Linked DNA regions of Homo sapiens: region 1 is linked to region 2. The links come from fine-mapping of genetic effects on gene expression. A gene starts in region 2. The other region holds a variant in brackets. All regions are shown on one strand. Distances are between the middles of the regions.

Region 1 (5,382 bases), 41 kb after region 2:
CCTTCCATTACAATTGCAATCCACACCAAATCAATCTTTGAAAACATTCCTCCATTCGGTTCATACATACAGTAGAAACCACTGTGGCTGCCCTTAATCCAGTGTGCTTATAGGAAATCAGTTAGCAGCTGACTCTGTTGAAAGGGATTTCCTCTCTGCTATACACTCCTTCCACACACAACTTTGGGTAGAAACGCTTATGAGAATAGAAAGGTCAGTTTGATCAATGAGTACCAGAAGATGAAACTTAGCTCACTAGACCCTTCTTTGAAAAGCCTCAACACACTACACCCATGTAATATGTAGGTCAAATTTAGGAAACAATAGCAAAAACAGGAACTGAAAGCTCATCAAGCAGGAAGTCAGAATAACAGGGAGACTCTGTCTACATTCCCTTAGAGCCCTTAACAGTCCCCAGCCTGGAGAAACACTGGGCCAATTGAGATAACACTTGGCTCTTCTGGTTGACACAGTGGGATGTAGACCATGCTCTGTTTGATAACACACCCCAGACGCAAACACTAAGACAGATGTGGTACATGAGGATGAATATATCTCATCTTTCATTCGAGAAATGAGGAGCTCTCTCTCCAATGACTGCAGTATCAGTTTAAAATGCAGAAAATTCAGCATGGGCTGTGAGACACTTTACCCTCAGTCACTCTGGTCCTCTGAGATCAGCTAGAAGCTCTCACTGGGCATCCTCGTGATTTAGTCAAAATACATTATCTAATTAAAGTGCTTTTCAAAAGCAGCTCCATTATAAGAGTCCCCCAAAGGTCTAGTAAAGATATCTAGAACTGGAAAAAGCTTGGGAATTCTGTTAGCATTTCAAAGAAAAGCATTAGACCAAAGCAAGGTGGAAACTGCTTAAAAACTAGAAAAGTTAAATTTAAAAGCCAAGTTCCAGAAGTTTATCCAGGTAGAAAATAAGTTAAAAGCATAAATTGGAGAGGAGAAAGAGGAAGGAACTACTCACCTCTCCCCAACATTCCTGTCTTTACTAACCAACCCTGCTTCCCAGAGCCTTAAAACCCAGACTGGTCCTAATGCGAAAGGTAGCCAGGGCTTCCTAGGGAAGTAGGAACAATGATAGCAAGACAGAAGATAAAAAGTTGTTTTAAAAGCTGTTTTTAAGTTAAGTGAACCTTATAAAGACATAAGAAAAAATGGACTCTGAAAATAAACTAGATTATACACAGAAACATTTTAAAGAAATGCTTATTCTTGAGACTGCTTTAAAAAGAAGAACAAGTCTGCATCACTCTAGCCAGCATAATGAGATTTGCAGAAAATACATGTTTGTACACATACACACACACACACACACACACACATACACACATACACACATACACATTAAATTATAAATCTTTGCTCTTGATTTCTTCACTTCCTCTGACCTGCCCTCGCCAGGGCTGGACCTGCAGAAGAGGACAGGGACTCATAAACCCAGCTTCTGCTTGGCCATTGAGGAACGGAGCTGCAGAGTCCCTTCTGCCCAAGACCCTGGGTACTGTCGCATCTTCTGCCACAGGCTCACTTCTTCCCCAGTCGAGTCCATCCAGTCCACCACTTCCCCATTACTGATCCCTGAGGAGAAACACCAGAAGAGGCTAAAGAGGGGCCCCACTCTCAGCCCACCAGGGAAGATGGGTTGTACAGCAAGATTAGCCACCCCATAACAGTTTCCTACGAAGATGGGCTAATGGCCACAGCAGTCTGGGAAGTGCTCCCTCACCTGTATTCCTGAGACTCTGTCAAGAGACTCTGGGTTGATGAAATCAGACTCCAAATGGCACACAGTCACTAGAGACTTCTTATTCTGAGGCTGTTACAGAGTTCTAGTGCCTGACAACTCATGCCAGAGCTATTGCCAACTGTACTTAAACATTTTTCTTTTATTATTATTATTAATTTGAGACGGAGCCTCGCTCTGTCGCCAGGCTGGAGTGCAGTGGCACAATCTTGGCTCACTGCAACTTCTGCTTCCTGGGTTCAAGCGATTCTCCCGCCTCAGCCTCCAGAGTACCTGGGACTACAGGCCTGCGCCACCACGCCCAGCTAATTTTTTTGTATTTTTAGTAGAGACGGGGTTTCACCATGTTGGCTAGGATGGTCTCGATCTCTTGACCTCGTGATCTGCCTGCCTCAGCCTCCCAAAGTGCTGGGATTACAGGTGTGAGCCACCGTGCCCGGCCAACTTTTTTCTTTTAAAGCTAAACACCTCTCCTCTAGCTGCAGACTCCAGGTCAGAAGTGAGGATCGTATGTGGCCCCATTCATATTCTCTTATATATTCATCCATTAATTCAGCAAACATTTATTGAGTGCCTACTGTGTGCCAGGTACTCTTCTAGGCTCTAGAGACACTAGTAAACAAAGCAGAAAAAGTCTCTGTCCTCAGGCAACTTTCATTTGAATAGGGAAGACAGAAAATATACAAGCAAACCAATAAGAGTATTTCAGACAGTGAGGTTAACATTATGATGTAAATAAACAGGGTGATGTATAGTGACTGACTCAGGAACTACTGTGCAGATGGAGTGGTCTGAGGACTCTCTGAGAAGGTGACATTTGAGCCAAGACCTGAAGGATAAGAAAGAACCAGACTTTCCATTCAGAGAAAACAATAATTGCAAAGGTTCTGAAGTGGGAATGAGCTTGGTATATTTGGAGAGCAGAAAGTCATTTTGGTTGAAGCATAGTGAGCAAGGGGAAGAGTGATACAAGACGGATCAGAAAGGAACAGAGGACCCAGGTTACACAGGGGCCTGTAGGCATGTTAAGAACTTTGGATTGTTTTCTAAGCACAACAGAAAGCCACTGAGGGGTTTTAACAGGGGACTGACATGAATTGGCTTACATGTGTAAAAACATCAGTCTATATGCTTCATGTTAAATATTCTGTGTGATTATTAATATATAAGTATATTAATA[G/T]ACAAGTGCAGAGACTAGGGAGAGGGCAAAGAAGAGGATCCGAGACTAAGCTCTGCCAAGCACCAACATTTAGAGTTTGGGTATAGAATGCAGCACCTACAAAGAAAACTGAGAAGGGGTGAGCAGTGACTTAAAAGGGAATCAGAATGCAGTGTCAATAGAAGTTCAGCGTTTCAAGCGAAAAGGAGTGATCTAGCATGTTAAATAGTGCTGAAAATTCTAGTGAGATGAGAACAACACTTTGGCAAGAGCAACTGCTCAGCAGAGTGGTGGGACAAAAGCCAGATCACAGTGAAGGAGAGCTGAAGGAGAGGTGAGAAGTGGAGACAATTCTTTCTAAGAAACTAGAAGGGGAACGTGTAGTCAAGGAAAGGTTTGTTTTTGTTTCATAAGATTGGAAATACCAGAGCATATCTGTATTCACCCCTGGTAGGTAGGGAGGATGAAACTGAGAGATGACGATTATAGAAGTGAGGTCATCGAGAAGGGTAGGGGGAGGTGGCCCAGAGCACTTGGAGAGAGCTTGGCTTTTGCTAGCAATGACCCTTCTTTCATTATTAACAGCATGGAAGATGGAATGTATAGGTACATACATATAGGTAGGTTTGTAGATTTTTTTGGTGGGAAGATTATGAAGTTCCTGGCAATCAGGGTCACATTTATCTGTGCACATATCAGTGCATGAGCTCAGCCTTCCCCTAGTCCTGGCACATAGTAGGCACTCAATAAGTATTGGCTGAATGTTAACTGAAAGGAAAGAAGACAACTGTCATCACAGAGGAGCTTTGTGTTGGGGGGCGGGAATGGTAATAGGAGTAAAATAGACAAGAAGCCTTCAAACAAGTGAGGATGGGGGAGGGGATCTCACCAGTGCCAACACCCAGCCTGACCCCTCCCAGGAAGTCATTGCTGGCCAGGGGCTCCCGGTCCCACACAGTCAGTTCCAGGCACATATGCTGTAGATCTTCCAGCCTCACACCATTGTAGACAAATGTATGGTTGTAGTGAGGATTCAGGGTCTTCTTCATCACAGGAGTTTTACGTTTACTGGCCTTGTTCCTCATGGGAAGGAGGTATCTGGCAGAGGGCGGGGAGTAATCAACAGCCTACTCAAAGCGGACAGTTATCTCTCTAAATTCCCCTTTCCCCTACCACAGGCCTAGCCCAAGAAGATGAACCCACATCCAGATCCTACTACACACGCCCCTCCTTGAATCTGCTGAAGCAGAGTTCCCACTACCTCTACTAGATCATTCACCTGATTCAATTCCTTTAACCTAGAGAGAAAATGAATATAATAGTATTAGTGAGGCTATTCTGTGCTCCACTGAAAATGGGTTTTAAATATTTGGCTTTGTTTCTACTAGACAATTTATCTCTTTAAATAAAACCAATAGTAATATCTATAAACTTAGCCAAACATGATTTCTAGATAAATTAAGTCAGTAGGTAATCTGTAATTTTCGGAAAGCTTAAAAACTGTGGGAAACAAAGCCCTGAGTTCCCAAATCTAGACAGTCAGAAGACACAGATTTTCACCCAGAATTAATTAAGAACATGAGTCAGACAAAAGTCAGAACCTGTCTGCAGCCCTCCTCTTTGGATTATCAAGTCTACAGCCCAGACCAGTGCAAAGGTGGTGAAGGTTTTGTCATTACCTAATTTCAGGAACAAATTTGGTTGCCGGGAGTGGTAAGACACACTGGATAATATCCACAGAGAAAGTTAAATTCTTCTCTTAGCTCTCTTGTTCTGAAACTGGTTAATTTGGGGCTGGTCTAGGGACTCACCCCTTGACAAAGCTGTCTGAAGTCCCTCCTGCTTTGGCAGCCGTCAAGTTCTTGGCTTCTTTGATCCACACCTGGAGCTCTCCCCCTTCCCCACCTTTACCTGTAAGGGATGTCAGCCATAGCAAGTGAGCCCCTTCCACCTCTAGATTTATCTTGAGCTTTGTTTATGCAGCACTTTCTTTGCTTGCTCCTAAAGGCAGCGAGCTCCATAACAGAACCGTGCCTGTCCTGTCTCCTCAGTGCCTAGCACAGTGCCTGCCAGTAAGCAATAGGTGCTGTATTAATAACAACCACAATATTAATAAATGCCTATTGAAAACTGGCTATGTGCCAGATACCATGTTAAGCATTTAATTCTCAAAACAACCCTAGGAGAGTCACACTATTTTTGTCCTCATTTTGTACATGAGAAAATTGAGGCTTAGAGACATAAAGTTGCCTGATATTTGTTCAATGATTTAAAAAAGAGGGAACTCCTCCATCTGAGTTCTCGATTCCACCCCTACTTCACAGGACTCTTCAGACATCATCAATTTCAATCCTCACCTCCCAATTTAAATATCTCTTTCTCCACTTGTCCCTTCCCCTCAGTCTAAATATATACTAATCTCATCTCTTTGAAAAAGTACTTCTAAAAGAAAAGCTCCCTTTAA
Region 2 (5,382 bases):
GCACCATGCATGACAGTTTTGTATTGGCCTTACTTTCCTGCTATAGTTGGTACTAACTGTACCTGGACTATGATGTAAGTGGGGAAGGAAGAGAACAGGTGCACATGTGAGGAAAATGAAACACGTCACACTTCTTTCCCCTACAGGTGGATAACATCTAGTAGCCAGACTCTGCTCTTTTCTCTGAGGCAACAGGGAATGTGTTCCCCTCTAGGTGGTGGTTACCACTTACCGTATTTTGGATCTTGTCTACTGCATGGCTTCTATAATCTCCTGTAGAGTTATACTGCTTCAAAGCCTTCTCATAATTATTCTTAAAGCTGTTCTTAATCTATAGCAAAGAAACACAATGTCAGTAAGAAAATCCTCTAGAAAGTTTTTGGTTTCAGGTCAAATAAGTTCTCGAATCTGACCAATGGTCATATCTTTGACAGCAGCAACATGTATAGTAATTAACTTCCATGGTACAGTCCTGTCCTCTAAGGGGTATAGGTTAGCTGAGGGGACTACTAAGCAAAACATTAAAATATATGATGAGAACCACTACAAGTTCAAAGTGCTGTGGGAATATGTATTTATCTGAGTGGCAATGCAGTATTGCTGTATTCTGCACCCTGCTAATTTTTCTCCACTTTAAACTGAGTTCAAATTCGATGCCTATGGAATTTGTAAGCTACAAAACCTTACTTTGGGAGGCTGTGCTACCACTTTATGAGAACTCTCATTAATGAGCCTTTGCTACTCACCGAATGTTATTTGAACAACCCCAAGTTTACCTGTTTTCTAATTCAGTATTAAGCTTTTTTTTTTTGAGATGGAGTCTCGCTCTGCTGCCCAGGCTGCAGTGCAGTGGCGCGATCTCGGCTCACTGCAAGCTCCATCTCCCGGGTTCATGCCATTCTCCTGCCTCAGCCTCCCGAGCAGCTGGGACTACAGGCACCTACCACCACGCCCGGCTAATTTTTTGTTTTTTTTTGTATTTTTAGTAGAGACAGTTTCACCGTGTTAGCCAGGGTGGTCTCGATCCCCTGACCTCGTGATCCACCTGCCTCGGCCTCCCAAAGTGCTGGGATTACAGGCGTGAGCCAACGCGCCCGGCCCAATATTAAACTTCTGATGATTTGCATTAAGTATATCCAATCTTTTCAAAATGCAAGGCATAAGAAGGTTATCAATTTTGTGCTTTGAATATTTTCCTATCAGCAAAGTTATAAATTGTACTATCTCCGTTTTAATAGGTATTTATACACAGAAAAACGACAGGGAATATAAGTAAGTAATTTTCTTCTGGTGACTATCAGTCTTTACAATTTTCTAAATTTTCTTTTAAATTAGAAGTGGACCAGAATTTTTACAAGAAGGCCATTATTGTCAGCTACAGGTTTAAATACAGAGGTCTGACTCTTCTACTTTAATAAATCCATTTTTATCTCTCAGAGGATAAATGTAACATGCTAAGCTTCCCTAATTCAGGCTTACCTCATGTCTGAAAACAAATCCTACGATGGCAGCGACCAGTTCGACCAAAAAAACGAGAGTCAGAAACATTGCATACTGCAGGATAAGAAAGAAAGTCCAAGTCAGCATAAATAAGATATAGCACAACTGCAAAGGGAGTCAAAGAAAAAATAATGGTCGTCTTCTCAATTAGTTCATCATGTTTTCATTGAAAAGGGCAGGGAAAATAACAACATGTCTATTTTGAAAGTGGAAACTGGCAGCTGAACTGTTACTTGATAAGTTTCCATAAGGAACAGGAAAAATTGTAAAGGGCCATGGCCAGTTCCAACAAAGGAATTCTATAACATACAAAACTTTTCTAAAACCAAGAATCAATTCTAATGAAAACAAGGACTCACCAGTTTTAGCATCCATGCAGAAGCTCGGCAGGTAGCAAAACAACCAAAGGTGCCCAAAAGAATAATGACGGTACCAGTAGCAATGAGCACGAAGGGGACATTGGTGGCCTTCTCATTTAAAAGAGAAAAGTAATTCTCCAGGCTCACCTTGCCCCAAATGCCAACTGCAAGAAGGATAACGCCAGTGATCTATGTGGGAATTCAGAGAATACAAACAGTTACGCACTGTGTACAGCAGCATCTTCAAATCACAACGCATGAGGTATTTAAGGCACAATAGGTGTAATATGCTGGGATACGGCAGACAAGGGGGAAGAGTAGAAGGGGTTAGGGGGGGATCTGCACACAAGAGCAGGCTGTGGACCAGGTATCTTATCAAAATTCTTAAAATTCATCTTTTTGTGTGTAAACACAAGCCCATGGCATATTTGCCCTAGGGATCAAAACTTCCTTAACTATCTTACTCCAACCTTAGGAAGAAAACCTTGAAGGGGAAAAAAAAAACGTGATTTTATGAGTTCCAGAAACTTCCCCCGTCCTCTCCAGGTAGGGATGGGCACAGGGTACAAAGGACTGGTACACAAAAGCAAGCCCAAGGATAGACTGGCGGGAGTGGAGGCATACCATACTTACCTGCGAAACACTCCTCTCTTACGAAGCAGTGAAAAGAAAGACACTATTATGCAAGTGAGCCCTCAAAGGGGCCGGGCAAGCCTTGCTTGCCTTTGCAAAGGTCCAGGGTCACCGTCTGCGTGCTCTGGGGGCTTAAGGCCCCACCTCGCCTCCCGTATCGAACTCGAACGCTGGTACGTCTGGGTCCCAGCTCAGCCTCTCGGCTGCCTTCGTCCCGCACTCCGACCCCAGCGCCGGCGAGATGCCTGAGCTCTTTGTTCGGGGCCCAGTCACTGGTCGCCGGCGTCGGGGTCCCAGGCGCGATGGCCGCCCAAACCCCACACCGTTCCCGACCTGAGCTCCCGCCGCTCAGGGTCACACCCCCCACAACTAAAAGCCCGGGATCCCCTGCCGGCCCCAGGCGCCTTCGTCTCTCACCCAGAAAATAAAAGTGTAGATTAGCAGAACGCTCTTGAAACAAGTAATGACTGGTTTAGTCTGCAGTCTCCGAGACGGGGACGCCATGACTAGCCCGAGACCCTGCACCACCGCACCGGGCGATTGGAACACAGAGAGCGAGACGCGGAGTCCCCGAGTCTCCCCGGAAACTGCCGAAAACTTACGAGCGTCCACAACTGAGAAGGGCCGGAAACACTGTACAATTTTGTAGAGGGTAAAGTATGGGAGGCTGTCCGGAAAGTGGCAACAATTTCAGAGCGCCCCCTGCCGAAGGTTACCGAAAACTATATACAAAGGTTCTAGTGTCGGAAATTTCATAGGTCTTCAAGTGGAGCTTTCTTCATTGTTTTTTTTCTATCCTAAGGAATCTTTCCCGCCCCCCACCCCTCCCCTCTCCTTATAACTTCACCATATTGTTTCTATCACCAGCAGAGCCCGCAGCGCTCTGAGATTGGGCCTCCCTGGCCCCTGGTGCCCTAGAGAGAAGGAAAAGAATGAAGAGGTTAAAAGCGACCTAAGAAAATACATGGGAAAATACCCACAAGAAATATATTTGCAAAAAGAAAGCGGATTGCAAAGCAATACATACAGTCACGTGTGCTTAGACAAAAACTGAAAGGAACAGTGAAATTTACCTCTGGTGGAATTAGGCTGATTTTTTTCTCACTTGTGTGCTTTTCAATTTGTGAACATTGTTTTATGGGTTAGGAAGGGGAGATGTGAATGGAGGAAAATAATCACCACTTGTTGAAAGAATTTCTAAGCTAGGTATTAAAGATAATAATGACTTTAGAATTTACCTGCAGGACTTTGCAAAACCCCAGTATTCCTCTCCTTTTTTATCCCCTAAGTAATTGGAAAGTTGAGGGAAAGTATTTTTACATAATAGTGAAATGTAAGTTCAGCTATTCGCTGTAAACTTTTAAAAAGAGAGAGTGCAATGGAAAAATCCCTGGTGAGTGTGACCTCCTCTTAAATGTTAAAACAGAAAGGCACTGTACATTCCAGCCACCTGGTTTTTCCCATCAAAACCCAGCTGATTACAGAGAGATTAAAACCTAATGTTATATATTGTGAATATATTGGTCTATGTTGTTACAACACAGGAGGTGCGTTAAGGTCTGATTTCTCAACTAAAGCGTCAGCTCTTTGAAGGCAGAGACTGAGTGTTAAGTGAGTTTGTGTTATCTCTAGAGGAACGGGGTTAGAAGGCTGTATCAGTTCCCTATGCAATCCAACCCTTCATCATTGACACAAGCTTAATATCACAAGTGGCTATTTACTCTATTGCCATTGCAAAAAGACCTGCATTTGTGGAGGAGAGATGAATACTCAAACTTTTCTGCTTGAAACGTTGCTTTAAACATACACCTCAGGACCAGAACACAGGAAAGTTCCATTGACTTGGTCACACAGAGCTTCCCTGTGCTTCGAATATTGACCTAGGACCAGTTCCTATAACATCTTGCCAGACGTCTGAGGTGCAAGGCAGCAACTGTTGGAAAATTAATTATTGCATTGCCAGGCTTTATACTAAAATTTTTACTAAAATTTGAAAGGCCTAATACACAAATACATGGAGAGAATGGATAAACGATACATCTACATACACCTTCAAACACTTTGAGGTAAAGTCGTTAGGAAATACCAAATATTCAACATGGTGGAGGGGGGTGTCTAAGTATATGCAAAGATTTCTCCCTAGGCTAAATGACCCCAACTGAAGGGTTCTTATACTAAAAACAAGGATCAAGGGAAGTCTTGATAACTTCTTGTCATCTTAAAGAGAAGTTTCTCTGAAACTTAGATATGTACTGAAAGGGATTTACAGTGTGAGCCCAAGAGCAAAGAAATATGTCTGTAGCTGAAGAAAAAACAAAATAGCAAAGCAAAAGCCACATCTTATTTCCAAGAATGTGTTGACTTTCCTCCTCTCCCTTCCTCTACCACTCACAACGCTGCTTTGTTTGAATAACACTCGGTGCCAAATTAAACCAAATGCTGACATGGAAATTCATATTCCTATGGCTACAACACCTTGCACCATTGCCTCCTACTCTGCTACACCCACTTCCATCTCCCCACCCCCACAATGCCACCAAACCGAGAAATTCAATTTAGTTCAAACCTAGGCCTGGGTTTGGGTACAAACCCAGACCAAAGGGGCATCTAATCCCGTTTAAGGCAATTTAAGAAGTATTTCCCTAGGCCACTAGATAAATGTATTCTTTAAAGTATTAATAATGACTGTGATAATAAGTATTGACTGTATACCAACCACTATTGCTAAGAGCTTGATACACATTACCTCGTATGCACACATCACAAGAACCCTATTATGAGGTTGACACACCTAGCACCTTCATTTTACAGATGAAGAAACAGGTTGAAAGAGACCAAGTAAGCTGCCTAGGACTAAACCTGGGCAACTTCTGTGTCTTTCATCAGAAAT

Which allele goes with the higher level. Positions count from the first base shown, and alleles are read on the strand shown. Sizes are in standard deviations (SD) of each study's normalised expression.
As copies of T replace G in region 1, the expression in ovary of the gene that starts at base 3,108 in region 2 goes up (moderate effect, 0.42 SD a copy in GTEx).

What was found. PIP is the estimated chance that this variant, and not a neighbour inherited with it, causes the effect.
Region 1: its variant is the best candidate, but not a certain one, in a credible set for the expression of TSPAN6 in ovary (GTEx, PIP 0.82).

The regions. Positions count from the first base shown.
Region 1 is chrX:100,674,584-100,679,965 of GRCh38, forward strand. SRPX2 (sushi repeat containing protein X-linked 2) reads left to right here. Exons shown (of 11, transcript NM_014467.3): 11 at 1-1,205. It overlaps SYTL4 (synaptotagmin like 4), which reads right to left. Exons shown (of 20, transcript NM_001370165.1): 18 at 4,730-4,829; 19 at 3,808-4,016; 20 at 1-1,593. The coding sequence ends at 1,445. Among named protein-coding and RNA genes, the nearest start is that of SRPX2, 33 kb to the left of the region's middle. The variant G/T (reference allele first, on the strand shown) is at 2,940.
Region 2 is chrX:100,633,699-100,639,080 of GRCh38, forward strand. It overlaps TSPAN6 (tetraspanin 6), which reads right to left and starts at 3,108. Exons shown (of 8, transcript NM_003270.4): 1 at 2,910-3,108; 2 at 1,860-2,048; 3 at 1,480-1,554; 4 at 233-331. The coding sequence starts at 2,996. RefSeq lists enhancers at 2,072-2,687, 2,688-3,303.